Linked DNA regions of Homo sapiens: all the other regions are linked to region 1. The links come from fine-mapping of genetic effects on gene expression. A gene starts in region 1. Each other region holds a variant in brackets. All regions are shown on one strand. Distances are between the middles of the regions.

Region 1 (5,131 bases):
GAGATTACAGGCGTGACCCACTGCGCCTGCCCGGCCACAAGGAAGTTTTTAAAGGAAAAGAAGAGGCAGTTTCTAAATTGTTTACCAATAATTTACATAAAAAAACAAACTATTAATTGTCTATAGATTGTTCTTCGTATCACAAATTCCAGGAACATGAAGATATGGTTGGGTAGTCAGTCATGAACAAAATGCCTTTAAACAATCGCCTCTGAGCATGAGTGTGGGGGGTGCAACTTATGTCCCATATTCAAGGTCTCTCTGGGCCTGATAAATTTTGCATACCTCACATTGCTCAAATGCTCTGAACTATTTTTCTTTTCTCAACTACAATTTCCTTTTTCTGGTTGCTCATGATTCAACTGGGGGAGCTTTTAAACCGTGGTTCTCAAACTTTAATGTGCATCAGAACTACCCAAAGGGCTTGTTAAATCTGGGTAGCTCAGCCCCAGCCCCAGAGTCTATGAATCAGGTCACTGGAGTACAGTTTCTGTCAAGTTCTCAGGTGATGCTGATGCTGCGGGCTCCAGTGACTACACTTTTAGAGCCAGTTTTAAAATACAAGGACTTGCAGATCCCACGTCCAGACTGACTCATTGGACTTGGGGATGGAAATCTGGCATTCCACCCCTCCCTGCCCCCTCCCCCCAATTTTAATGTGTCCAAGGGTGAGAATCATTGCTCCTCTGTGGACTATGGATGGTTCCCTGAAGTTACTGAGTTTGGGATTTAATAAATATATGCATTCCTCTGGGTCAACTACAGGAATTCTGCGGTATTTAAGGACATTAAATGAGTGACTTAATACTTTATTTAAAAAAATACCACTGCTTTTTGGTTCACACTAATTTTCTTCCTTCTTTTGGAAAGGCATTTCCGTCCATCTCCTGGATATTTTCCAATACCACGATAGAAAGGTTATTAGTACAGCACCCAGAGGTCTTCGGAGCAAAGCTGTTAAAGAAGTGGGGTCCATTTGAGCCCCAACTTTGCCTTCCTTAGGTCCCCTTGGGCTTGTCTAGCCCTAGGAGTTCCAACAAGTAAGCTGGGCATGCTCAGTGGGCAGGGTCGTTTTTTTTTTTTGGGTGGCGGGGGGTTGCAAGTGGGAAGCCTGCTGTTCAGCTGCCGGGGCTCTCCGCCTCCCCCCACCTGTATGAGGCTGGGTCTGGGGAACCTGTGCTCAGCATTCCACCCCCTGGAGCTTGGGCTTGGTCTTCCCTGCGGGTCCCTGCGCTGACATTCAGGCGGGGAGCCAGGAGGCCTGGCGCGCCTCCAGAGCCCGCCGGGGGAGCCGGGCGAGGGTTCTGGGCTCTGACGGCGGGGTCGCAGGGTCGCCCGCCTCCTGGACACGTCTGTAGGCCTAGGGAAGCCTGCCGGCCGGGAGGTACAGAGTAGGAGAAGCCAGATCCCAGGGCGGACAACGAGAAGTCGTCAGGTAAGCCAGCCCCGCCAGCGTGCCGGCGGACGAGTGTCTCCTCTCCCGCAGGCAGATGGCCAGGGCGGCCCGCATGGGCGAGGGCACAGGAAATCGGACACCGCCACCGTCTTCCCCAGCCTGGCCTAGCTCAGGCTTTCCAGTCCGCCAGCCCGCTGGCAAGGCGGGGCGGAGGTCTGGAGTCCGGCATCGCCGAGGCACAAAGCAGGAACTGCAGCCAGGGGCGAGGGCCCTTGCGTGTGGCGCTGCGCGACCCCACCCGGCGGCAGGACCCGCGTCCCCGTCTAGTCACGTTCATTGGGCCACGGAGACCACCTCGCTCGCCGCCCGCTGTTGGCTTTTCCCTCCCACACCCCCGCCAACCCCGGCCCCGGTTCCCGCCCCCACTTCCGCGTTTCCCCGCTGGGCCGGAGGAGCCTGGGCCCGAGGTATCCGGGCAGGAGGTGGCGGCCTCGCCGCCCTGGTCAGGCCTCCGGGAGGGAGCAGGCGCGGGAGCGGGAGGAGGAAGTCGGGAAGAGGGAAGGCGGGGGCGCGGCCCGCCCGGCGCTCGAGTTACACCCGCCCAGCCCGCCTCGAGTGACAGCCCCGCGCGCCTCGCTGGGAGCACCCGGGCCGAGGCTCTGATTCTGGGGGGAGGCCGACTCCACCCTGGCTGGAGGAACTGGGTGCTCCTGCCCGCTGGCCCCTCGCGCGTGAGGATCTATCTCAGGTGTGTGCTTCCTGGGAGACCCCTTCCCCCGCCTCTAGTATTCTAGGGGGGGAGTGGTCCCTTTCTGACCCGGGCGAGTGTTCTGGGACTCCAGTCTTGGCGGTAGGTGGTGGCGGGAAACGGGAAAGATTTAGAATTTCTTCCCACCAGCAGAAGATGGATTCGCTCTTCTCTAGGGTTTCGTTGTTTATGTTTTGGAGGCGGCATTTGTAAAATAGTAAAGTGGCAGGACTTTTGGGGCGAGGGTTGGTACCCCATTGAAAGTTCATGCAAACTTTTAGCTTGTAGATGCGGCTAGTCTGATAAGGATTGTTGCTCCCTTCCGAAGCAAGAGTGAGAACGAGTCTGGAGGAGGGCTGAGGCTTCTTTGAGAAACTCAGCTGCTGGCGTGTGACCGTCCTAGGAGGAAATGGAAGGTGCACACTGATAACTTAAAACAGCCTCCACTCCCTATGTAGTAACTTCTACCAGCAAAAATAGATTTGCAAAGAGTGCTTTGGCAGGAAGGTGTAGCTGGGTGAATGAAGTGCTGCTCTTAGCAGATGGTCTCTAGTCTGGCTTCCACCTTGTGCAGTGGAATATTCACTCCCAGAAGAGTTCCAGAGTAATTTACAAACACAAATTCTTGCAAAGTGTTAGTGACATGGGCAACCCAAATCACACACAACACATTATAAATATCATAGGAGGCAGCTATAGAAATAGCAGCTAGTCAACTTATACTTGTATAAATAGGTGAGGGAAGGAAGTTAGTAAGTGACAGGGAGTCTTTATTGCTAAAACAAAACTGTTAGTATTTTGCATGTGTTCCAAGTTTAAAGAGATGTGAAGTTTCTTTTTGGCGTGTGGACGGTGCTGGCAGCTGTCACACTGGGCCCAGGCACTTCTTCGTAGCTACTGACCACTCTAGTCCCAGTCCTACAGTTCTTGCTGGCTACCACATGACATCTGGATGCCATTGCCCAATGGAGACCGTGTGCAGTCTGGGGAACCTTGTGATGTGGATGTTGAAACCCCCCTCTGTTTCTCACAGGGGCGTTATGTCAAATTACAACACTCCCTTGACTTTTACAAATCAACTCGTGAAATAATACAGCAATATTTTAATGAATAAATGGGTAAATATGGGGTTTTGGGTTTGAGAACCAACAATGGATTCATTGCAACTGTCCATTCTCATAGCTTATAGAGTCACTTTATTTTATAAAGAAATTCTAAACAGCATTAGAGCTCTGCTTCCTTCTTTCTCCCTTGTGATTCATTCAAAGATGCAATGGCTTGGTTCAGGAATTGACAAAAGGGCCACAGTGTTACCAATTGTTAGTGAGTGTTACCACCCCCTTTAGTTTTTTTTGTAACTATTTAATCTCATTGTAGATATTTTAAAAGATTTGATGATTATTGTGCATAACTCATGTTGGCAAACTATTATAACTCTGAACTTATCCTGTTTGGTTGTTTTCTTTCATCTCTAGCGTGTAAGTTCTATGAGAGTAGCAGGGCTTGTTCTGTCTTGCATACTTTCAAAACTCTAATGCCTGGAGTGGTGACTAGCTTGTAATACACCCTCAATAAATGTTTTCTCAATGAGTGACCTCCAATGCCTAGAGGGGTGACTAGCTTGTAATACACCCTCAATAAATGTTTTCTCAATGAGCGACTGAACTGTGGAACAAACTCCAGCTGAGGGTAGTTGTGGAGCGGGGAGCCAAAGACTTTGGCCTTAGGTCATCTTTTAAAACTCAGCCTCAATTGTCTCATTGGCAAAATATGGATAATAAATGCTATGACGTGTGTAAAATTGCTAGCAATGTACCTGGCAAGTAGTAGACTTCAAAAGACTAGCTTCCATCCTATATTTTTCCTTCTTATACTCAAGTAGGAAAATATGGGCAAAGAATGTAGTTAGCTTGAAAATTTGGGCAAAGAATTCTTGCATGTTGTGCATGAATTATCCGTACATTTTTTTCGGTTAGTTGAGTGTGTTGGGATGGGGAGAGGAGAGGCGAGTTAGTGGTAGCTATGGTTATTAGAGAAGGGAAGCAATTTTCAGATCAGTATCTAATTTCTCAGTTTTAGTTTTTGAATGTGATGATGTTTCTGTTTAGGTTTTCCAAAACTTGATTCTTTCTGTTTGTCAACACCTGGACTCATGGGGCTATCCTAAGTGCAGAAACAACACTTCAGAAAGAGGACTAGAAATCAAATATATGAACACTAGTCTTCTTAAATGAAATTTTCTGTATTCTTGTGCAGCATTATATTGTGTAATAAGTGCTAAATAAAAAAATAGTTAACCTCTTTTGAGAAGCTTACAGTTGTTTAACAAGGTAAAACATAGATGGAAAACAATTGGAGACCAACATAAGACCTCGTACAATCATTTTTCCAGTGGTAGGATGTTGGCCAGAACTGATGTGATTATGAAGGAAAAGGTTAATATTGGCTCAAGTAGTTGGAGACAGCTTCCTGGTGAAGGGAATGCCACTTCAGTAACAGAGAGACTTAACATGTCCTGAAGACTATTGGAAAGATCACCTTTGTTTTAGGAATGTTTGCTATTGTGTACTTCATTGTATGAAAAAGCCAACATAATCTTGTACTTTCAAAAATGATCTTTCTGTTGAAAATTATATGGGAAATCTTCAGTAAAATTCTGCATATGCAAGAAATCAATACTTGTCACTATGTCTGTGAAGTTTAAAGCTCAGGATTGGCGTGAAAATGGTAACTCTTCATTCTTGTCCACCTTTAACACACTTGCTTAAAAATGTGTCAGATAGGCCAGGTGCAGTGGATCACACCTGTAATCCCAGCACTTTGCTTTGGGAGGCCAAGGCAGGCAGATCGCTTGAGCCCAGGAGTTTGAGACCAGCCTGGACAACATGGAAACCCCATCTTTACAAAAAAATACAAAAATTAACCAGGCATGGTGGCACGTGCCTGTAGTCCCAGCTACTTAGGAGGCCAAAACGTGAGAATTGCTT
Region 2 (5,131 bases), 180 kb after region 1:
TTATCAATCACTACAATACCAGTTTTCGGGGGCAAATGGGCAGCACTGTGAAGTCTGAGAGTGGGGTGTTACTGGAACCAGGTTGTAAACAACAAAATGTTACTTTCAAAATCTCTGGGTTGGAAATAAAAAGTCAATAACAACCTGCTGCTCAACATCTTATGTCAATTTCTGGGACTAAATGAAAGAATATAATGTTTATAGAGAAGAAAATCAACAATAAATGACTTGTGTAAATAATAATTGGTATATATACATATACTACCCTCTTAGCTATCTTGGGCAATGTAATTATAACACATCAGAAGAAGAATTAAAATTCATATGGCTAGGCAAAATGTTTTAAGATAAATAGGTAATCCTTGAGGATTAACAACACTCTTCCAATTTAAGGGAAAAAAAGTTGTCTCATAACGAATGTTACAGTCAGTTGCCTGAGTTAGTGTTTCCCATAAAATGCAACTCCCAGAAATACTCCTGAAAAGAGAAGAATCTACAGCTTGCAACACTATAATGTACTTTTTCTGAGTCTTGATTTCTCTAGAAATTAAAACATTCAGTTTGGAAATATGGGGCAAGACCAGATTGTAAACTGCAAATTGTTAAATACTTCAAAAGAAAGAAACAATACAATAAGTTGGTTATGTAAATTGGATTATACTAGTGGCAGAATGAAAAGTGAACTAGAAGCAGCCACAGAAGAAACAAGAAGGCTGTTGGAAGGAACTGCTGTAGTCTAGATAAGGGGTGACGATAGTTTAGTCTAGGGTGTGGCAGTGGAGAACAGGGAGAATGGAAAGGTTTAAGAGCTATCTGACAGATGAAATGGAAGGAAATTGATGATGAGTGGAGAAAGATATGTGAGGATGGTCATGTCAAAAGTTACTCTCAGGATTTTGGCTTAATTCTAAAGTAAGAAATGATGCTTTAAAAAATGTTTTTCCTCATAGATAGTCTTAATGTTCTCATACATGTGGATAAATTGCCAGGTGTATTCTCTTCAAGTAAAGACAACTTTAGAGGGCACACGTTTAGATTTTTGCAAATTATGTTCCCTCAACAGGTGTTTTAAGAGCTCCAAGAGGCACTACGTAATAAAGTAGAAAGGTGATACAATTGCGAAGTTAAAAAATGCAAGTTGCAATGCAGTTTCTATGGTATGACCACATTTAATTTAAGCCCTAAAGCTCTGTATTTGCACATGGACATCTATGATATACATAGAAAAGTTCTTAAAGGAGACTTGAAACTGTTAAAAGTGGTTATATTGGGGAAAAGAAAGGAATGGGAGTTAATGAAGGTGACAATTTAATTACCATCTATACCTCTGTATTGTTAGAATTCTTAACAGTAAAACATATATATCTACAGTTAAGATAAAACAGAACAAAAAGAGTGATATAAAGTTGTCTTATTGTCTTTGGTGAAAGACAATATACTAAATGTCTTGGACAACTGGTGTAAGTAAGTGCCAGGCATATTGGTAAGGTCAGAGGTGTGCAAATGATTACATTATTTCTTATTACTAGCATCCTGGGATAGAGAGAGAAGGTCTGTGCTCAGGCAGTGGACGTGGATTCTAACTGTTACTATGCTGCTTGATATCACAGGACTCTGGGCCACTCAATTCATCCTCAGGTTCTCAGGTTCCTTATCTGTTACATTAGAAGGTCAGGCTAAATCAGGGGTGGCAAGCCAATTAGCATGGCCCCCATTCTCCAAACTCTCACTCTTGGTAGGTATTTCTTTTTTTCTTCTTTTCTTTTCTTTTTTTTTTTTTTTTTTTGAGACGGAGTCTTGCTCTGTCACCCAGGCTGGAGTGCAGTGGTACGATCTCGTCTCACTGCAAGCTCCGCCTCCTGGTTGGTAGGTATTTCTGTGTCCGGAATTGGTGGGTTCTTGGTCTCACTGACTTCAAGAATGAAGCCGCGGACCCTAGCGGTGAGTGTTACAGTTCTTAAAGGCGGTGTGTCCGGAGTTTGTTCCTTCTGATGTTCAGATGTGTTCGGAGTTTCTTCCTTCTGGTGGGTTTGTGGTCTCGCTGGCTCAGGAGTGAAGCTGCAGGCCTTCGCGGTGAGTGTTAAGCTCTTAAGGCGGCACTTCTGGAGTTGTTCGTTCCTCCCGGTGGGCTCGTGGTCTCGCTGGCTTCAGGAGTGAAGCTGCAGACCTTCACGGTGAGTGTTACAGCTCGTAAAGGCAGTGTGGACCCAAAGAGTGAGCAGTAGCAAGATTTATTGCAAAGAGCAAAAGAACAAAGCTTCCACAGTGTGGAAGGGGACCCAAGGGGGTTGCCACTGCTGGCTCCGGCAGCCTGCTTTTATTCTCTTATCTGCCCCCACCCCCCGACATCCTGCTGATTGGTAGAGCCGAGTGGCCTGTTTTGATAGGGTGCTGATTGGTGCATTTACAATCCCTGAGCTAGACACAAAGGTTCTCCACCTCCCCACTAGATTAGCTAGATACAGAGTGTCACACAAAGGTTCTCCAAGGCCCCACCAGAGTAGCTAGATACCGAGTGTGGATTGGTGCATTCGCAAACCCTGAGCTAGACACAGGGTGCTGATTGGTATGTTTACAAACCTTGAGCTAGATACAGAGTGCCGATTTGTGTATTTACAATCCCTGAGCTAGACATAAAGGTTCTCCAGGTCCCCACCAGACTCAGGAGCCCAGTTGGCTTCACCCAGTGGATCCCGCACTGGGGCTGCAGGTGGAGCTGCCTGCCAGTCCCGCGCCCTGCGCCTGCACTCCTCAGCCCTTGGGTGGTCGATGGGACTGGGCGCCGTGGAGCACGGGGCAGTGCTCATCGGGGAGGCTCGGGCGGCACAGGAGCCCATGGAGGGGGTGGGAGGCTCAGGCATGGCGGGCTGCAGGTCCCAAGTCCTGCCCCGCGGGAAGGCAGCTAAGACACCGAGAAATCACCTAAGATTTCTTGGTGAGAAATCGAGAGCTGCGCCGGTGGGCTGGCACTGCTGGGGCACCCAGTACACCCTCCGCAGCCGCTGGCCCGGGTGCTAAGCCCCTCATTGCCCGGGGCTGGCAGGGCCGGCTGGCTGTTCCGAGTGCGGGGCCCGCCAAGCCCACGCCCACCCGGAACTCCAGCTGGCCCGCAAGCGCCGCGCGCAGCCGCGGTTCCCGCGCTCGCGCTTCTCCCTCCACACCTCCCTGCAAGCTGAGGGAGCCGGCTCTGGCCTTGGCCAGCCCAG[A/G]AAGGGGCTTCCACAGTGCAGCGGTGGGCTGAAGGGCTCCTCAAGTGCCGCCAAAGTGGGAGCCCAGGCAGAGGAGGCGCCGAGAGCGAGCGAGGGCTGTGAGGACTGCCAGCACGCTGTCACCTCTCATTTCTAACCCATCATGGCTCTCTTTCTGCTGAGACGAGATCTACCAATTGGAGTTGGCACCCTAGAAGAAAGGTATTTGTCATCACAGATCACAGATTACCTGGAGAGGCATAGTAGCCTGTTAGAAAGAGCATAGGCCTTGGAGACAGGCAAACCTGGATTACATTTTTCAGTGCCATTTACTGAGCTGTGTAAATTCAGACAAATGAATTAACCTCTCGGAGCTTCAGTTCTTTCATCTGTAAAATAGATACGATACTTCCTACCTCAGTAGTTTGAATGTGTCCCCTCCAAAATTCAAGTGTTGCCATTTTGATAGTGTTAACAGGAGAATTTAATTACACTCAGATTTAAAAAAAGGTATTAAGAAGTGGGGCCTGAAAGAGGTGATTAGGCCATGAGGACACCTTCTTCATTAATGGGATTAAATCCCTTATTAGAGAGCCTTCACAAAGCATTTGGCTAGCTTGCTCTTCTGCTTTCTGCCATATAAGGTCTTATCAAGAAGGCCCTCAACAGACCAAGTGCTGGCAACTTGATCTTGAATTTCATAGCTTCCAGAACTGTGAGAAATGAACTTGTGTTCTTTATAAATTACTCAATCTCAGTGTTTTGTTATAGCCACACTAACAGACTAAGGCCATTATCTATTTTTGTTGTTGTGTGCCCTGTTAGGAGCTGCCTCCTCTCAGCTCCTCAAACTAAAAATGCTTACATCGGCCAAAATCTATTTCTTCATCCCAGTTAGTTCAGCAAAGATAGACTATACTATTCAAGGCTTCAGTCTCAATGCCAATACACAAGGGCTCTGCACAGACCTTGCAGATACCTCATCTGTGCACGCAGCTTTAGAGGTATGATACTTGATATTCAAGAAGGGAATCAAAGTGGAGTGGTTTCTCTTTGAAGAGCAATTTAAATATCCTGTGTTGATCTTCAGTCATGAACAGGAGTGGTCTTTGTATGAATTGAGAAGCCAACAAAAGTGGCTGTGTCTCTGCTCCCCACTCCCAATTTGGAAACCCTGTGAGCATGACTAGGTGGTCTGTATGATGTAATTTGATTTGTTAGAATGTGAGTGGCTTACAACCATCATTTGCGAGTAAATTACTTAGCCGTATTCTTCTTTACGACTGGCTGAAGAAACTTACTTGATGGTATAATATAATTTATTCCTGTGAATAAGTGAGTGACCTTCACATCTCAATCCATCTCCTGTGAGTTATGGGCCTTTTTTCACTCAGGAAAATGGCCTGTGTTTTACCACTGCCTACCATTTTCCACATTCCATTCCACTAATTGTGTACGTAAATAAGACAGTCTAAGATGCTGAAGAAAATTATATTAACATGCTAAATACCAAAATAATTCTTGGTGTATACCAAAGCATCTTTTTTCTAAAGATCTGCAAGCAACATTTAAACATTTTGTTTCTGTATTGACAGTCCTCTTAGCTAGAGTAAATCAATAGTATTAATCCCATTTTATAGATGGGAAAACTAAGGCTCAAAAAGAAATTGGCAACCTGGAGCCCAGTGGTACAGAGGCAAGTCATAGAACATGTAGCAGGAAAGGAAGTGGCTAAGTGGTGTATGGAATACACTGATATACTGGATTTTAGATTGTTTGTATAGTTTGTATTCTACTTTGCTTAATGAATGATAACTAATATTTGTTGAATTTTACACATGTTGTAGGCATTGTTCTAAGCATTTGACATAAACTGGATTACTCAGTCCTGGTGATAGTCCTTTGAGGTGGTCATTATAATGAATATCCTCATTTTATGGATGAGA
Region 3 (5,131 bases), 59 kb before region 1:
AATCAGACATAGATTTGGTCTTTTCACATGGTCCCATATTTCTTGGAGGCTTTGTTCATTTCTTTTTATTCTTTTTTCTCTAAACTTCTATTCTCGCTTCATTTCATTCATTTGATCTTCAATCACTGATACCATTTCTTCCACTTGATCGAATCAGCTACTGAAGCTTGTGCATGCGTCACATAGTTCTTGTGCCATGGTTTTCAGCTCCATCAGGTCATTTAAGGTCTTCTCTACACTGTTTATTATAGTTAGCCATTCGTCTAATCTTTTTTCAAGGTTTTTAGCTTCTTTGCGATGGGTTCGAACATCCTCCTTTAGCTTGGAGAAGTTTGTTGTTACCGATCGTCTGAAGCCTTCTTCTCTCAACTCATCAAAGTCATTCTCCATCCAGCTTTGTTCCATTGCTGGCAAGGAGCTGCATTCCTTTGGAGGAGAAGAGGCAGTCTGATTTTTAGAATTTTCAGCTTTTCTGCTCTGGTTTCTCCCCATCTTTGTGGTTTTATCTACCTTTGGTCTTTGATGATGGTGATGTACAGATGGGTTTTTGGTGTGGATGTCCTTTCTGTTTGTTAGTTTTCCTTCTAACAGTCAGGACCATCAGCTGCATCTCTGTTGGAGTTTGCTGGAGGTCCACTCCAGACCCTGTTTGCCTGGGTTATCACAAGTGGAGGCTACAGAACAGCAAATATTGCAGAATGGCAAATGTTGCTGCCTGATCCTTCCTCTGGAAGCTTTGTCTCAGAGGGGCACCCAGCTGTATGAGGTGTCAGTTGGCCCCTACTGGGAGATGTCTCCCAGTTAGGCTACTCGGGGGTCAGGGATCCACTTGAGGAGGCAGTCTGTCCATTCTCAGATCTCAAACTCCATGCTGGGAGAACCACTACTCTCTTCAAAGCTGTCAGACAGGGACGTTTAAGTCTGCAGAAGTTTCTACTGTCTTTTGTTCAGCTATGCCCTGCCCGCAGAGGTGGAGTCTACAGAGGCAGGCAGGCCTCCTTGAGGTGCGGTGGACTCCACCCAGTTCGAGCTTCCTGGCGGCTTTGTTTACCTACTCAAGCCTCAGCAATGGCAGACGCCCCTACCCCAGCCTCACTGCTGCCTTGCAGTTCAATCTCAGACTGCTGTGCTAGCAGTGAGTGAGGTTCTGTGGACGTGGGACCCTCTGAGTTAGGCACAGGATATAATCTCTTGGTGTGCCATTTGCTAAGACCATTGGAAAAGTGCAGTATTAGGGTGGGGGTGTCCCAATTTGCGAGGTACTGTCTGTCACGGCTTCCCTTGGCTAGGAAAGGGAATTACCTGACCCCTTGTGCTTCTCGGGTGAGGCAATGCCCCGCCCTGCTTCAGCTCACACTCCATGGGCTGCACCCACTGTCCGACAAGCCCCAGTGAGATGAACCCGGTACCTCAGTTGGAAATGCAGAAATCACACATCTTCTGCATCGCTCATGCTGGGAGCTGTAGACTGGAGCTGCTCCTATTCGGCCATCTTGGAACCACTCCCTCCTATATTTTATTTTAAATCGTGTTTTAAACTAATAGATGTTTCTTTATTATAAGGGAAATATCCATTCAAGTTTTAAAAATAGGAAAATTTAGACATGTGAAACAAAAAAGAAAGGAAATGAGAAAGGGAAAGAGGGAGGGAGGAAGAAAAGAAGAAATGAGGGAGGGAAGGAAAATAGAAATCTTGTTGAGATATCTCTGTTTTTTAGTATGCATCAAATATTTGTTTTATGTAGTTGAGGTAAAGTTATTTATACTTGTGTTTTAAGCATAATTAACAAACTTTCATTTGTCTTAGATGACAGGTAGTATCTACCACTGGATGGTTTATTAGTCTTTCCCAATTAAAAAAATGACTCAGTTAATCAATATGAACTTTAAAGATGTGGGAACTTATAATTCAAGTTTCTTAGCAATAAAAAATGATCACTATATTGCTGTATATAGATCTATTTTCTAGAATGGAAGAAAGAGACTATAATAATTCTTTGAGCGTGGCTCACAAATTTGTAAATAGTTTAGCCTTTATTTTAGAATTTTATCAAAGTAGTACATGCATATGTTATGCCCTAAATGTTTGTGTCCTCTAAATTTATATGGTGAAATCCTACCCTACAAGGTGATAATATTA[G/C]GGAGTGGAGGCTTTGGAAGGGATTGGGTCATGAGAGTGGAGGTCTCATGGATGATATTAGTCTCCTTATAAAAGAGGCCCTTGGGAGCTCATTGCCCCTTCCACCTATGAGGATACAACTGGTGGTGCTGGTCTGTGAACCAGAAAACAGGCCCTCGCCAGACACTGAATCTGCTGTGGCCTTGATCTTGGACTTCTCAGCCTCCAAAACTATGAGAAATACATTTCTGTCATTTATAAGCCATCCAGTTTATGGTACTCTATTATAGCAGCCCGAATAAACTAAGAGACGATACAATTTTAAAAAACAAATCCAAACACAGAAGTCCTCCATTCTACCTCTCCTAGTAGTTCTTAGTTCATTTTCCCAGAGATAAACACTTTCCATTCTTTTAGCTATCTCTTCTAGACTCTACTGTCTTAGATGGGTGTGATGGCCCATACCTGTAGTCCCAACTACTCAGGAGGCTGAGGTGGAAGGATCACTTGTGCCTGGGAGGTGGAGGCTGCAGTGAGCTATGAATCATGCCACTGTACTTTAGCCTGGGCAAAAGAGTGAGACCCTCTCTCAAAAAAGAAAAAAGACTACTGTCATAGCTCTTGACCATTTTAATGCCATTTATAGAGGTACTGATTTGAGACTTTACTTTTCGCATCCTAAATCTAAAAGATAAAGATCTAGCATTCTTCTACCCCCAATTTTTGGTTAAATGAATACAAATTTGTTTATATTGCTACAACTTACCACATAAATATTATTTATAAATGAATATGTAATTTATTATGATTTACATTTCCTTTCTTCTATGACTTTGATTTCCTGAGCTAATTATTGTTTATTCTTGTGGTTATTATAGTTATGTTTGCTTTACTTTCTTTATATCTAATATTATTCACCCTCCAAAAATCTTTTTTCAAAATAATTTCAACTTTTATTTTAGATTCACAGGGTACATGTGCAAGTTTGCTATCTGGGTATATTGTGTGACATTAAGGTTTGGGGTGTGAATGATCCCATCACCCAGGTACTGAGCATAGTACCCAATAGTTTTTCAACTCTTGCCCCCTTGCCTCCCTCCCTGCTCCAATAGTCCCCCCTGTAGCCATTTTTATGTTCATGAGTATCCAGTGTTTAGCTCCCACTTACAGGTGACAACATGCAGTATTTGGTTTTTTGTTCCTGTGTTAATTCACCTACGATAATCACCTCCAGGGGCATTTATGTTGCTGCAAGGGACATGATTTCATTCTTGTTTATGGCTGTGTAGTATTCCATGGTATATATGTACCCACTTTTTTTTATTCAATCCACTGTCGATGAGCAGCTAAGTTGATTCCATGTCTTTGCTTTTGTGAATAGTGCTTCCATGACCATACAAGTGCATGTGTCTTTTTGGTAGAACAATTTATTTTCTTTTGGATATATACACAGTAAGGGGATTGCTAAGTCAAATGGTAGTTCTCAGTTCTTTGGGAAATCTCCAAACTGCTTTCCACAGTGGCTGAACTAATTCACATTCCCACCAACAGTGTATAAGCATTCCCTTTTATTCACAACCTCAACAGCATCTGCTGTTTCTTTGACATTTTAATAACAACCATTCTGACTGGTATGAGATGGTATCTTACTGTGGGTTTGATTTGCATTTCTCTAATGATTAGGCATGTTGAGCATTTTTTCAAATGTGTGTTGTCCATTTGTATTGTCTTCTTTTGATAAGTGCCTGTTCATATTCTTTGCCCATTTTTTAGTGGGATTATTTGTTTTTTGTTTGTTCAATTAAGTTGCCTATAGATTCTGGATATTAGACCTTTACTGGATGCATAGTTTCTGAATAGTTTCTTCCATTCTGTAGATTGTCTGTTTACTCTGTTGATAGTTTTTTCCTTTTTCTTGCTGTGCAGAAGCTCTTTAATTCAGTTAGGTCCCACTTGTCAATTTTTGTTTCATTGCAATTGCTTTTGAGGACTTAGTCATAAATTAGTTCCCAAAGCTGATGTTCAGAATTCCTACAAAAATCTTTACATTGATAGTTTAAAATCAACTACCCCACTGACAGGAGAAATGTATCAATAGAGTCAAATATATCAAGTTCCTATTTCTTTTTGGTTTGGTTGATTTTTTTTTTTTTTTTTTTTTTTTTTTTTTTAGTGATATCTCTTCAACCCCATCATTGCAGTATCAAAGACCAACTACTTTCTAGACCTTCTGCATAGCTATTGTCTTGGGAATTCCCCTTGCAACACTCTATGTTGACTATTTTCTAGACCTAAGACTTCTCCTTTTGTGGTGTACTCCTTCACTTTTGTAAAACAAATCATACATTGGAGGGCTTTCTTTTTTCTTGAGAAGTTCCTTGTCTGATCAATTTTTCAATTTTTACTTACACTCAGTTGATAGTGTGGGTGGGTAAATAATTCAAGGCTAAACATTATTTTCTCTTGGATCATTAAAAACATTTTTTCACTCTTCTGGCATCCTGAGTTTGGATATATTCTTCGAATATGATGTCTGCTTCCACTTACCTTTATCACAGGTGTTCTAAAATGTTATCATATGCTTTGATGTCGGTCTCTTTTTATCCATTGTACCAAGAACTCGTGAGAATGTGTTCTTTGGTAACAATATTTTCTTATATTATTTCTTTCATCATTTTTCCTATCCATTTTTTCTTCCTCTACTCTGGAAGTCTTATTGATCTGATTTTTAACCTCTTTTGTTAGCATAATTGATTATCTTATTTTTCCTCTCCTGTGGCTGGCCTTTTTGCCTATGCTAGTATTTTTTCTGGGTGATTTCCCCAACGTCATATTCCAAACATTCTATTAATTTTTAAAATTTCTGCTGACATATTTTTTAATTTCTAGAGACTTATTTTTTTCCCTTTTCCTCTCCACTTCTTTTTCTTCAATAGCATATTGTTCTTGATTTACAGATATCTCTCTTAGATTTCTGATTATATTAATTATAGGTTTTTTAAAACACAATTT
Region 4 (5,131 bases), 31 kb before region 1:
TTGCCTCTTTTTCTGTATTTCTCTGTCACAATAGCAGGTGTGTAAAACAGGTCTCGTCAAATATTTTCCCTTGGCACTGCACTTTCTTAGAGATGGGTATGTGACTAAATCTGGGACAATGAAAAGTCCTTGCCGAAACTCTCTTGCAGAAGTTTTAAGTAAAAACTGTCTTTTTGCTGGGTTGTTCAAACAGGTTGAGTGTATAGTTTGGGTTGTCCAGAAGAAAGAGACAAACATATTCCTAATATGATATTGAGCCACTAGAAGCAGCCATGCCCGACTAGAAAAAATTCTGGATTTTGTGTTTATATGAGTCAGTAAATTGCCCTTAAACAATAAGTGGTGGGCTAAGTGTAGTAACTCACACCAGTAATCCTAGCACTTTGAGAGGCCGAGACAGAAGGATCAACTGAGGCCAGGAGTTTGACACCAGCCTGGGCAACATAGTGAGACCTTGTCTCTACAAAAAATAAAAATTAAAAATTAAAAAAAAATTACCCAGGTGTGGTGGTACACACCTGTAGTTCCAGCTACTTGGGAGACTAAGGTTGGAGGGTTGCTTGAGCCTGGGAGTTTGAGGCTGGCTGCAGTGAGCTATACTGTGCCACTGCACTCCAGCCTTTGCAACAGAGCAAGACCATGTCTCTAAAAAACATACAACAACAACAAAATTAGCCTTTAAACTTAGTTTGAGCAGTATTTTGCTAGAATCTTAACACAAATTGAGAAACAGTTTTACCCCAAACATGGTAAACTTAGATAACTCATTACCCAGGATGTGATATAGACTAATAATATTAAAGTTTAAGAAAAGTTTAGGCCAAGTGTGGTGCCTCACCCCTATAATCCCAGCACTTTGGGAGGCCGAGGTGAGTGGATCACCTGGGGTCAGAAGTTCAAGACCAGCCTGGCCAATGTGTGAAACCCCGTCTCTATTAAAAATACCAAAAAAAAAAAAAAAAAAAAAAAAGCTGGGCATGGTGGTGCGGCTGTAATCCCACTATTCAGGAGGCTGAGGCAGGAGAATCCCTTGAACCCAGGAGGCAGAGATTGCGATGAGCCAAGATTGTGCCATTGCACTCCAGCCTAGGGAACAGAGTGAGACTCCGTCTCCAAAAAAAAAAAAAAGAAACATTTACATTTAGAGAAATTCGTCGATGATGATAACACTACAAGGAGACAACAAAAACCATGAGAAAATTTTTAGGACACATTCCCAGCTTGTTGGAATAAGGTAAACTCTGTTGCAAAGAAGGTTCGGAGCATTTGAAGGAATATTCAGGCAACAGTGTGACAGAGAAGTAGAAAGAGGAGAAACTAAAAATAGAGAAATCCATTCAAGAGGTAGTTAGAATAGGAGTAGAGAGGTGACGAGGTCCTGAACCAAGGCCACAGCTCTAGCATGAGGTGCATGGCAAGACAGAAGGAGGAAGAAAAATTACTCTAGGAATCTACCTTACGTGCTTGATAGACTTGGGGTGTAGTGTAGAAAAGTAAGGAAGAGAAAATACTGGAAGGAAAGGGGTGGTGTAAAGCGCTCATTTTTGGAAATTCTGACTTTGAAGTAAGTAGGAAGAGGTGCCTGCTAGGTGGTTAGATCAACCCCAGGAGAAATCAAGGCTACAGAAGTGGATTTGGAAGTCAATCACCTGATGGGTGAAATGCAAAAATGTGGAAATGGAGAATATCACACAGAGAAAAGAGTGCTGAGGACGCAGCCTTAGGGAATGACAAGAATTGAGGAGCCAAAGTTGGAGAAACAGGACAGTGGCATCTGTGGAGGCAGGCAGAGCCCCACTTCTTTTGCTAATTCTGAATAATAAAACATGACAAACACATATGTCACAGTGTTTCATAGATATACTGTGTAGTAATCCTGTTTCACATCGGGAATGCTGTAGTAGGCAGTGATTTCATTATCCACGTGATCAAGCTTGAAGAGATCAGAGGATGACCAACAGTGCCTTCTGGGTGGTGCACACTAACACTTCCCCTGGTCTGCTCTGTTCCCATGCTCAGATAAGAAGCTCCCATTGAAGCTGGTAGAGAGAAGGAAAGCACTTGAGCACTGTGAAGTGTTACACAATCTTCTCTTTTAGGCAAGCCTGGCCATTGTGACACCCAGTGCGACAGGCAGGGGTTGTAAGTTGCATCATAGCACCTTGGAGCACTTGCTC[A/G]AGGTACCAAGTTCCTAGCTGGTGTTAGCTCATCATAGAAAAGTGGCCAGGCTTATATCATCTGAAGAAAGTAAACAGTTCAGAAACAGAAATAGTTCATATAATACAAAGTCACCAAAGCAATGCCTTTTTTTTTTTTTTCACCTGTGAGTGATCGTATTGATTTAATACACACAGCTTATTTCTGTCCCAGGTTACAAACTAGCCCTAGGGAAACGGTGGAGCCAGTCATTTGGATTGCCCTTTACTGGCTGGGAATTAAATCATTACTTATTCCATTTTAGAATCACAAGTAGTACCCTAAGGCCTACTTTCCTAAGGATTAAAATCAAGGCATGGAAGTGAAGAATCCAGGTGTAATTCTCAGATGCATGCAGATGTTGAGAATGCAGCAATTTTTCCTGGAAAGCTGTCACTGCAAAATCATCCTGCTCACGATATGCTCATTCCTAGTTCTCAAGCATATCCAATTAGTCAACAAGCCTGATTTCTCCTTTTAAAATGGCACTGACTCTTATTCTCCCTCCTCATGCCAATCTCTCCTACACAGTGCAGACAATTATCAGCTCACTCCCTGGGCTACCCAGGAAACCTCAGATTTCCTCTGCCATCCTGCATGCTGCTACCAATTGCATTTTTTCCTTTCCCTCCCCTACTTCTCTCTCTCCCTCCTTTTCTTTCTTCCTTCCTTAATTTTGGAAAATTCAGTCATTTCTTTATTCCAAAATTGAATTAATTTTAAATCCATACAGAGTCCTCATGGTGGAGGAAATGTGAGTGGGAATTCTTTACCTTTCTCTTGACTCTCATCTCTGGGTGAAGCATTTATTCAACTACTTCAGAGCTGTGCCGCTTGGCAGAAATAGCTTTCACTTCCCTTCCTAAAGCTCTTTCTTCTTCTTCTTCCCAAGTTATTTGGGTCTTTTAAAATATATGTTTTTTTCATAAGAAACCCACATGTATGGTGCAAAATTCAAAAGGTATGAGAGAGTATTCATTGAAAAGTATGCCTAGCCTGGCACAGTGGCTCAGCCTGTAATCCCAGCACTTTGGGAGGCCAAGACGGGCAGATCACCTGAGGTCACGAGTTTGAGACCAGCCTTGCTAACATGGTGAAACCCCGTCTCTACTAAAAAATACAAAAATTAGCCAGGCATGGTGGCTCATGCCTGTAATCCCAGCTACTCGGAAGGCTGAGGCAGGAGAATCTCTTGAACCCAGGAGGTGGAGGTTGCAGTGAGCTGAGATCGCACCACTGCACTCCAGCCTCAGCAACAGATCCCAGGTTTCCTTTCCTAGAGGAAACCATTGTTATCAGTGTCCTGTATTTCCCTTCACAAATATTTCTATGTGGATATAAACATTGCAACTTTTATTAAAAAAATTTTTTTAATCTCTTTTTTGAGAGACATGCAATTTATTTTTAAGCACAAATGGTACATACTATACATACTGTTATGCTCATATCCTTTTCTCCCCCCAGAAATATATATCTTGGAAAATTATCCTTCTTAGAACACATAGAGCTAACTTTATCTTTTTAGTGGCTCTATGTTCATTTTTTAAACTGTCTTTTATGGACTAGGAATTAAAACATTATTTTTTCTATCTCACAATAATAAGCAGTACCCCAAGGCCAAGTTTCCTAAGGATTAGAATCAAAGCATGGAAATAAAGAACCTAGCTGTAATTGTAAGATGCATGAAGACAGTGAGGTACCATAATTACCTGAGCCAGTTCTTTGGCAGAGGACATTTAGACTGTTTCTAATCTTTTGCTAGTAGGAACAATGCTACAGTGAATGCCTTGAATGAATGCCATTTTGTTCATGTATGAGAACACCTGCAGGATAAATTCCTGGGAGAAAAATTGCTAAATCCAAGGGTGAGTACATTTTAAATATTGCAAAATTACTCTCCAAAAATGTCTATTTTTCTTAATCATTGCATTTATTATATTACTCTTTTGCTCCCAAATGTTAGTGAATCCTTGCACTTATTTAATCCTCTGCTGTCTCCATGCTGTAATTTTTTTTTTTTTTTTTTTTTTTTTTTTGAGACAGGGTCTTGCTCTGTCACCCAGGCTAGAGTATAGTGGTGCAATCACGGCTCACTGTTGCCTTGAGGTCCCCAGGCTCAGATGATCCTCCCACCTCAGCCTCCCGAGGAGCTGAGACTACAGGCATGCGCCACCACACTGGCTAATTTTTGTATTTTTTGTAGACATGGGGTTTTGCTATGTTGCCCAGGCGGGTCTTGAACTCCTGGGCTCCAGTAATCTGCCCACCTTGGCCTCCCAAACTGCTAGGATTATAGGCGTTAGACACTGAGCCTGGCCAAAAGTAGTGTTCTAAATTACCAAGATTCTTCTCCGCATTAATAGTCTGAGAACTTTTTATATTGTTTTGAAATATGGAAAGTTTGCAGTTTAGGAGAAAATAAAAAAGTTTGATTAAGCTGAAAACATGTAGTGCTAAAAGAGGTCTTGAAAGCATCGCCTGGGAACTGGTTAGAAATGCTGACTGCAGGCTGGGTGCAGTGGCTCTGGCCTGTGATCCCAGCATTTTGGGAGACCGACCTGGATGCATGGCTTGAGCCCAGGAGTTTGAGACCAGTCTGGGCAACATAGGGAGACCACCCCCTGCCCATGATCTCTACAAAAAGTAAAAAAACTAGCCAGGCATGGTGGTGTGCACCTCTGTAGTCCCAGCTACAGGGGAGGCTGAGGTGGGAGAATCTCTTGAGCCTGGAAAGTTGAGGCTGCAGTGAGCTGTGATTGCCCCACTGCACCTGGTAAAAAAAAAAAAAAAAAAAAAAGACAAGAAAGGCAAATGCAGCCAGCTCCTGAAGGATCTTGGCTGCTGGGTGAAGTTTGGGTGAGGCCAGGTAGGCTATTGTGTTATGAGTTAAATTTTGTTGCCCAAAAATGTGCATGTTGAAGTAAAAAATTTGCAT
Region 5 (5,000 bases), 44 kb after region 1:
TCTGTTGAAAAAGATTACTACAGGCATATGCAATCAATGAGTTGCATAAGAAATCCAACTATGTGCATTTCTTTTCTGGTGATTCCTGTCCCTTTAAGATACTGCCATTAGCATGTATTTGGGGGGTAGCAGGTGCGATGTAGCCATAGGGACTGGCAAAAAATAATAATAATAATAAAAAATAAAAGCAAGAATGAGAAGAGGAAACAACCTATTCCAGACATTGACATAAAATGACCACAGGCCTCCATTAACTCAGCTGTCCTCTCTCAGAAAATATCTGCCAATAAGAGCCATTCTAGCGGGGGGGAATTTTCCTGACTTCAATAGTCAAAAAAAAATCTGCCCTTTGAGATACATTAATTGGCTACACTTTTGTTTGTAGAAGCTGGGGCCTTAAATGTGACTAGGTATGCTCCATTTTTCTGCAGAGTGATGTTTAAGTATTGGCTTGTTACAGGTATATTTACCTACTGTATTTTTGTATTTTTTCTAGTTTCCTAAGAAGATTCCAACTGATAAACTGCCGTTTATTAAGAATAAGTTAGTTTTGAAACCCCAAGTTCCTGATGTCCTAGAGAGCCACCTATTGACTTTGGTTCTGGCACATTTTGCTGTGTTCTTGCATGCTCTGTCTTCCTGGCCCCTGGCTTGTGCCATTTGGTACTCCCAGGACAAAGCTTCTTCCCTGAAATAAAAGCAGGGGCTATATTCTAAATACAAATGGATTGAATATAAAAGTTGGTACATTGTTAAAACATTTTTGGTGATGAGATAGTACTATGAGTGTTTAGGTGCCAGGTCAGCTCCTGAAAACCTTTGAGTCAATTCTGTAGTTAAATTACCTTATATATGTAAAGAAAACAATTGTATATTCTTTAAAAATTAATTAAACATAAGACAGATTGAAATTGAATAAGATGTGGTTTCACTTACCTTTAATGCAGTTGCCTGAATCAGAGCCATTGTAGGTGGGAGAATAGAGGCCTCCATGGAGACTGGTGTTTCTGGGAGCAGGTTAGGGGTTAGAGGTGGTAGCAATGATGCTTTTGTCTCACTCTACTTCATAGTATGGCTTTTCTTCATACAAGCATATTAACAATGCTATTACTTAGGTTTATCAATGATGAATAGTGCCCACTGTTGAGCCAAGTGAACTCTAGAGGTTTATTATTTTTATTTTCTAAGGGAAACAGGTCAGATTTAGAAGAGATAGAGGAATGTGAGGGTTGTTATAGCCTAAGGAGAGGGCAATTATTATTATTATTCTTTTGGAGCTGAGCAGCCTAAATCTTCAATTCCAACCAAGGAAGTTGATGAGGAAAGGAGATGAAGGTTGGCTGACTTCTTTTGCTTGTGTCCACCTGCAGAGGTTTGTGGCCACAGATAACATCCACATTCCAGGCCTTCCTCAGTTAAGCATCTGAGGGCTTTTAGCGTGGTCTTAGAGTGGCTTCTTCTTCATTTTCTTGTCCCCTTTTCTTTATTTTCCACCCATAAGCAGGTGACAGTTTCCACAAAGGGAGCTTGAGTTTTCTTCTCCCCAGACCAGCTGTATGCCAAGGAACAAGAGTCTTAGTACTGCGATATAAGCATTTTACCACTCAAAGAAACCAACCCCACTGGGAATGGAGCAAGCAGAGACACTCTGTGGTGGTGTGGAGATTTTTTAGATCAAGTTGATTGTGATTCACTATTTAGTATAGGTTGGTTTAATAATACACTTTTAATTGGATGAAACTTGGAGGTCATCTTATCCAGTCTAAGGTCTACTGAAAGGAAGTAGCACTTCATAGAGGAGTCTCCTTTTTCTAATTCCAGGCTGGTGGGAGAATGGAGTAGATGAAGAGGGAAATTTAAATTAGGAAAAGGGGTCATGGGATACTTTTAGAACAAGTAAACCTTTTTGAGCAACAGCAGTAGAGAGCATTAAAGTCAGGGCTCCATGAGGAGTCCTCAGGAAGATGGGAAGGTTGGGATGGGAGTGGCCAGGGAGAATGAAACAAGAATAGAGTGGGAAGGAGTACAGGGATTTCACACGGGGCTACCCTAGTCTTTTTTCTTTTCATTATAGCCCAACGGCACT[G/GT]TTTAACACTTTTTTTTTTAAGTTAACATTTATTTCATACCTTCTAGGTCCTAACTGGAAAAACTGATGTGATGATGTAGGCTTTTCTTTAACCTCAGTGATGTGGTTGATATGACAAAAATCTATTCGGGTCAGAAGAGTGGTCTTTCTCACATAACACATTCTAGGTTTGTTCCTTCCATGACCTGGTCTGAAGGTGTGGTGGCTTTGGGCTTTGTGAGCCGAGGTAAAACTTGAGAACCACTGAGAGCTTTCTCAAAGCCCGGATGTGAAAATTTTTTTCCCCCCTGCACCATAAATAGGCAAGGAGTGAGCTTCAGAATATGAAAATCAAGATCTCTCTCTCTTTTTTTTTTTTTTTTTCCTGAGATGGAGTTTCACTCTTGTTGCCCAGGCTGGAGTGCCAGGGGCATGATCTCAGCTCATTGCAACCTCTGCCTCCTGGGTTCAAGCGATTCTCCTGCCTCAGCCTCCCAAGTAGCTGGGATTACAAGCACCCTGATTCTAAGAAGATCATTCCTCCTAAGGTCTCTTTTTAATGGGAGGAATTATCTTCTTAGAATCAGGGAAGTAAGAAATTCTCATTGATTGGTGTGCCATTCATAAGCAACGGAACAAAAAGGCCAAGAGCGTTATCTTTAGAGCAGTCTCTGCAGACTGCCTGCATCTAACACCTAGCTGTACTTTTCTTTTTTGAGGTATGTTTCCTTACCTTTATTTATTTACATATTTATTCCTTTATTTTTGTTTGACATGTCATAATTGTACATATTTATGGAATGCAGAATGATATTTCTGTGCATGTATACAACATGTAACGATCAAATCAGGGTAATTAGCATATCCATTACCTCAAACATTGATCATTTCTTTGTGTTGTGAACATTAAAAATCCTCTCTTGTAGCTTTTTGAAAATATACACTAAATTATTGTTAACCATATTCAGCATATAGTGTTACAAAGCCCTAGAACTTATTCCATCTAGCTGTAACTTTGTGTGTATTAACCAACCTCTCCCTGTCTTCCCCCTCCCCTCCCCTTTCCAGCTTTTAATACCAACAGTTCTACTCTCTATTTCTATGAGCTCAATTTATTTTAGCTCCTAGATATGAGTCAGAACATGAAGTATTTGTCTTTCTGTGCCTGACTTATTTCACTTAACATAATGTCCTCCAGGCTCATCTGTGTTGTTGCAAATGACAGGATTTCATTCTTTTTCTTTTTTTTTTTTTTAAATAGAGATGGGGTCTTGCCATGTTGCTCAGGCTGGTCTTGAACTCCTGAGCTCAAGTTCACCCACCTCGGCCCCAAAGTGCTGGGGATCACAGACGTGAGTCATTGTGCCCGGCCTATTTCATTCTTTTTAATAACTGAATAGTATTCCATCATGTATACATATACCACATTTTCTTTATTCAGTCATCTGTTGATGGACATTTAGGTTGATTCCATATCTTGGCTATTGTGAACAGCTAGTTCTGTATCTTTATAGCTGAGTGACTATAGGTGATTTTCTTAAATTCTCTCAGCCTCATTTTCTCCCTTCTATGAAATAGGGATAACAGTGGTACTTCCTGCACAGGTTTATTAAAAAGCAGTGAAGCCTGGGAGAGTTCCTGGAACATAGGAAGCTTTCAAAAAGTGTTACCTCTTATGAGATTCCCAAGGGATATGAATATAAAGTGCGGTTGTAGTCAGCAAGCAAGTTGCTCTTGTCACTAGAGATCTTGCATTCACGGATACTTTGTTAAAACTTTTGGGATTAGTAGCAAATGATATATCCTTCATTTTAGGTTATAGAAGAATGGCTCAAAGACAGGTGTACCAACACTCTTCTGTTTTCCTTTCTCCTTGCTTCCGGATCTGAGGATGAGCAAGAATATCAACACCAATTGTTGACTTAACCTCTCTAACTGTTATAATAAGTTCCTTGAATTTCCCACTGTTTCTTTCTTTTTTTCTATGTAGGCTTATATGAATTATGGCATACTTGATTTATATAACTGATATGTTGCTAAAAAGTTACAAGAATATAGTTCCTTTGATAAATTAATATCAGTGCCATTTATTGGAATTCTGTGGTGAAACATTCTTTAAAAACAGGCAATATTAGGGAAAAAAGCTCTAACTTTTTTTGGGGGGGATAAATCTGAATTTTCATATATCATTGTAGCTTGAAATGGAATGCAATTAAACTAATTTCTTCTTTCCCAAAGTCAGTGATGTTCGAGCATGTTGATATTATAATAGGTGTTGATGACAGGATCTTCATGATTTGCAAAATAGCCTCTCACTTTGTAAGAGACATCAATTCTCTATGCTTGTGAGTGGCTTAGGAAATACTATAGTTCACTCTGTTATATGTGTTAATTAAGGGAATATGAAAAAAAACCCTGATAACAGTGATGTGTTAGGTGAGTTGAAATACAGGTAAGCCTATACTACCTTTGTTAGTGTCAGCAAAACCCAGGAGGAAAAATATTTATGCTAATGAGAGGCAAAGTGATGCATGGATAATTAAAATCAGCAGGAATTTTGAGAACGTTGTTTTAACTTGTAATTGCAATCTCTCCCTCTCCATACCTTATTTGTAAGAGCTCTAACGAAGTAGTGCTTTTTGATTAGTAGTACCAATGACTCAAAAGTTTTAAAGGCAGTAGCAAAAGATAAGATTGGACAAGAAGCAAAAAACAAAAAAAAAACAAAAAACAAAAATAACAAAAAAGAATGATCAACTCTAGTCAAAATAAGATCTAATTTAGGATTTATTTGAATAGACCCCAAATAAAGCAACATTTAGCTTCCTGAATGTGTCTGTTATGTGAATGTGGCTGGGTTTTGGTGAACCTGTTGTAGCGTGTGTAGGTTATAAAAAATTTCAGAATTCCAATTTCTTCATAAAATAAAGATAAT

The links. PIP is the estimated chance that this variant, and not a neighbour inherited with it, causes the effect.
Region 2: its variant is fine-mapped to the expression of GPD2 in whole blood (INTERVAL, PIP above 0.99).
Region 3: its variant is fine-mapped to the expression of GPD2 in whole blood (INTERVAL, PIP above 0.99).
Region 4: its variant is fine-mapped to the expression of GPD2 in whole blood (TOPMed, PIP above 0.99).
Region 5: its variant is fine-mapped to the expression of GPD2 in whole blood (TOPMed, PIP 0.96).

What each region holds. Positions count from the first base shown.
Region 1 is chr2:156,434,370-156,439,500 of GRCh38, forward strand. It overlaps GPD2 (glycerol-3-phosphate dehydrogenase 2), which reads left to right and starts at 2,010. Exons shown (of 17, transcript NM_000408.5): 1 at 2,010-2,144. RefSeq lists silencers at 1,112-1,281, 1,722-2,131 and an enhancer at 1,522-1,571.
Region 2 is chr2:156,615,290-156,620,420 of GRCh38, forward strand. No RefSeq gene overlaps it. Among named protein-coding and RNA genes, the nearest start is that of LINC01958, 49 kb to the right of the region's middle. The variant A/G (reference allele first, on the strand shown) is at 3,207.
Region 3 is chr2:156,374,890-156,380,020 of GRCh38, forward strand. No RefSeq gene overlaps it. Among named protein-coding and RNA genes, the nearest start is that of TRA-CGC3-1, 23 kb to the right of the region's middle. The variant G/C (reference allele first, on the strand shown) is at 2,141.
Region 4 is chr2:156,403,741-156,408,871 of GRCh38, forward strand. It overlaps a transcript of GPD2 not described here. Among named protein-coding and RNA genes, the nearest start is that of TRG-GCC2-2, 5.1 kb to the left of the region's middle. The variant A/G (reference allele first, on the strand shown) is at 2,178.
Region 5 is chr2:156,478,343-156,483,342 of GRCh38, forward strand. All of the region lies in intron 2 of GPD2 (glycerol-3-phosphate dehydrogenase 2), which reads left to right. Among named protein-coding and RNA genes, the nearest start is that of GPD2, 44 kb to the left of the region's middle. The variant G/GT (reference allele first, on the strand shown) is at 2,087.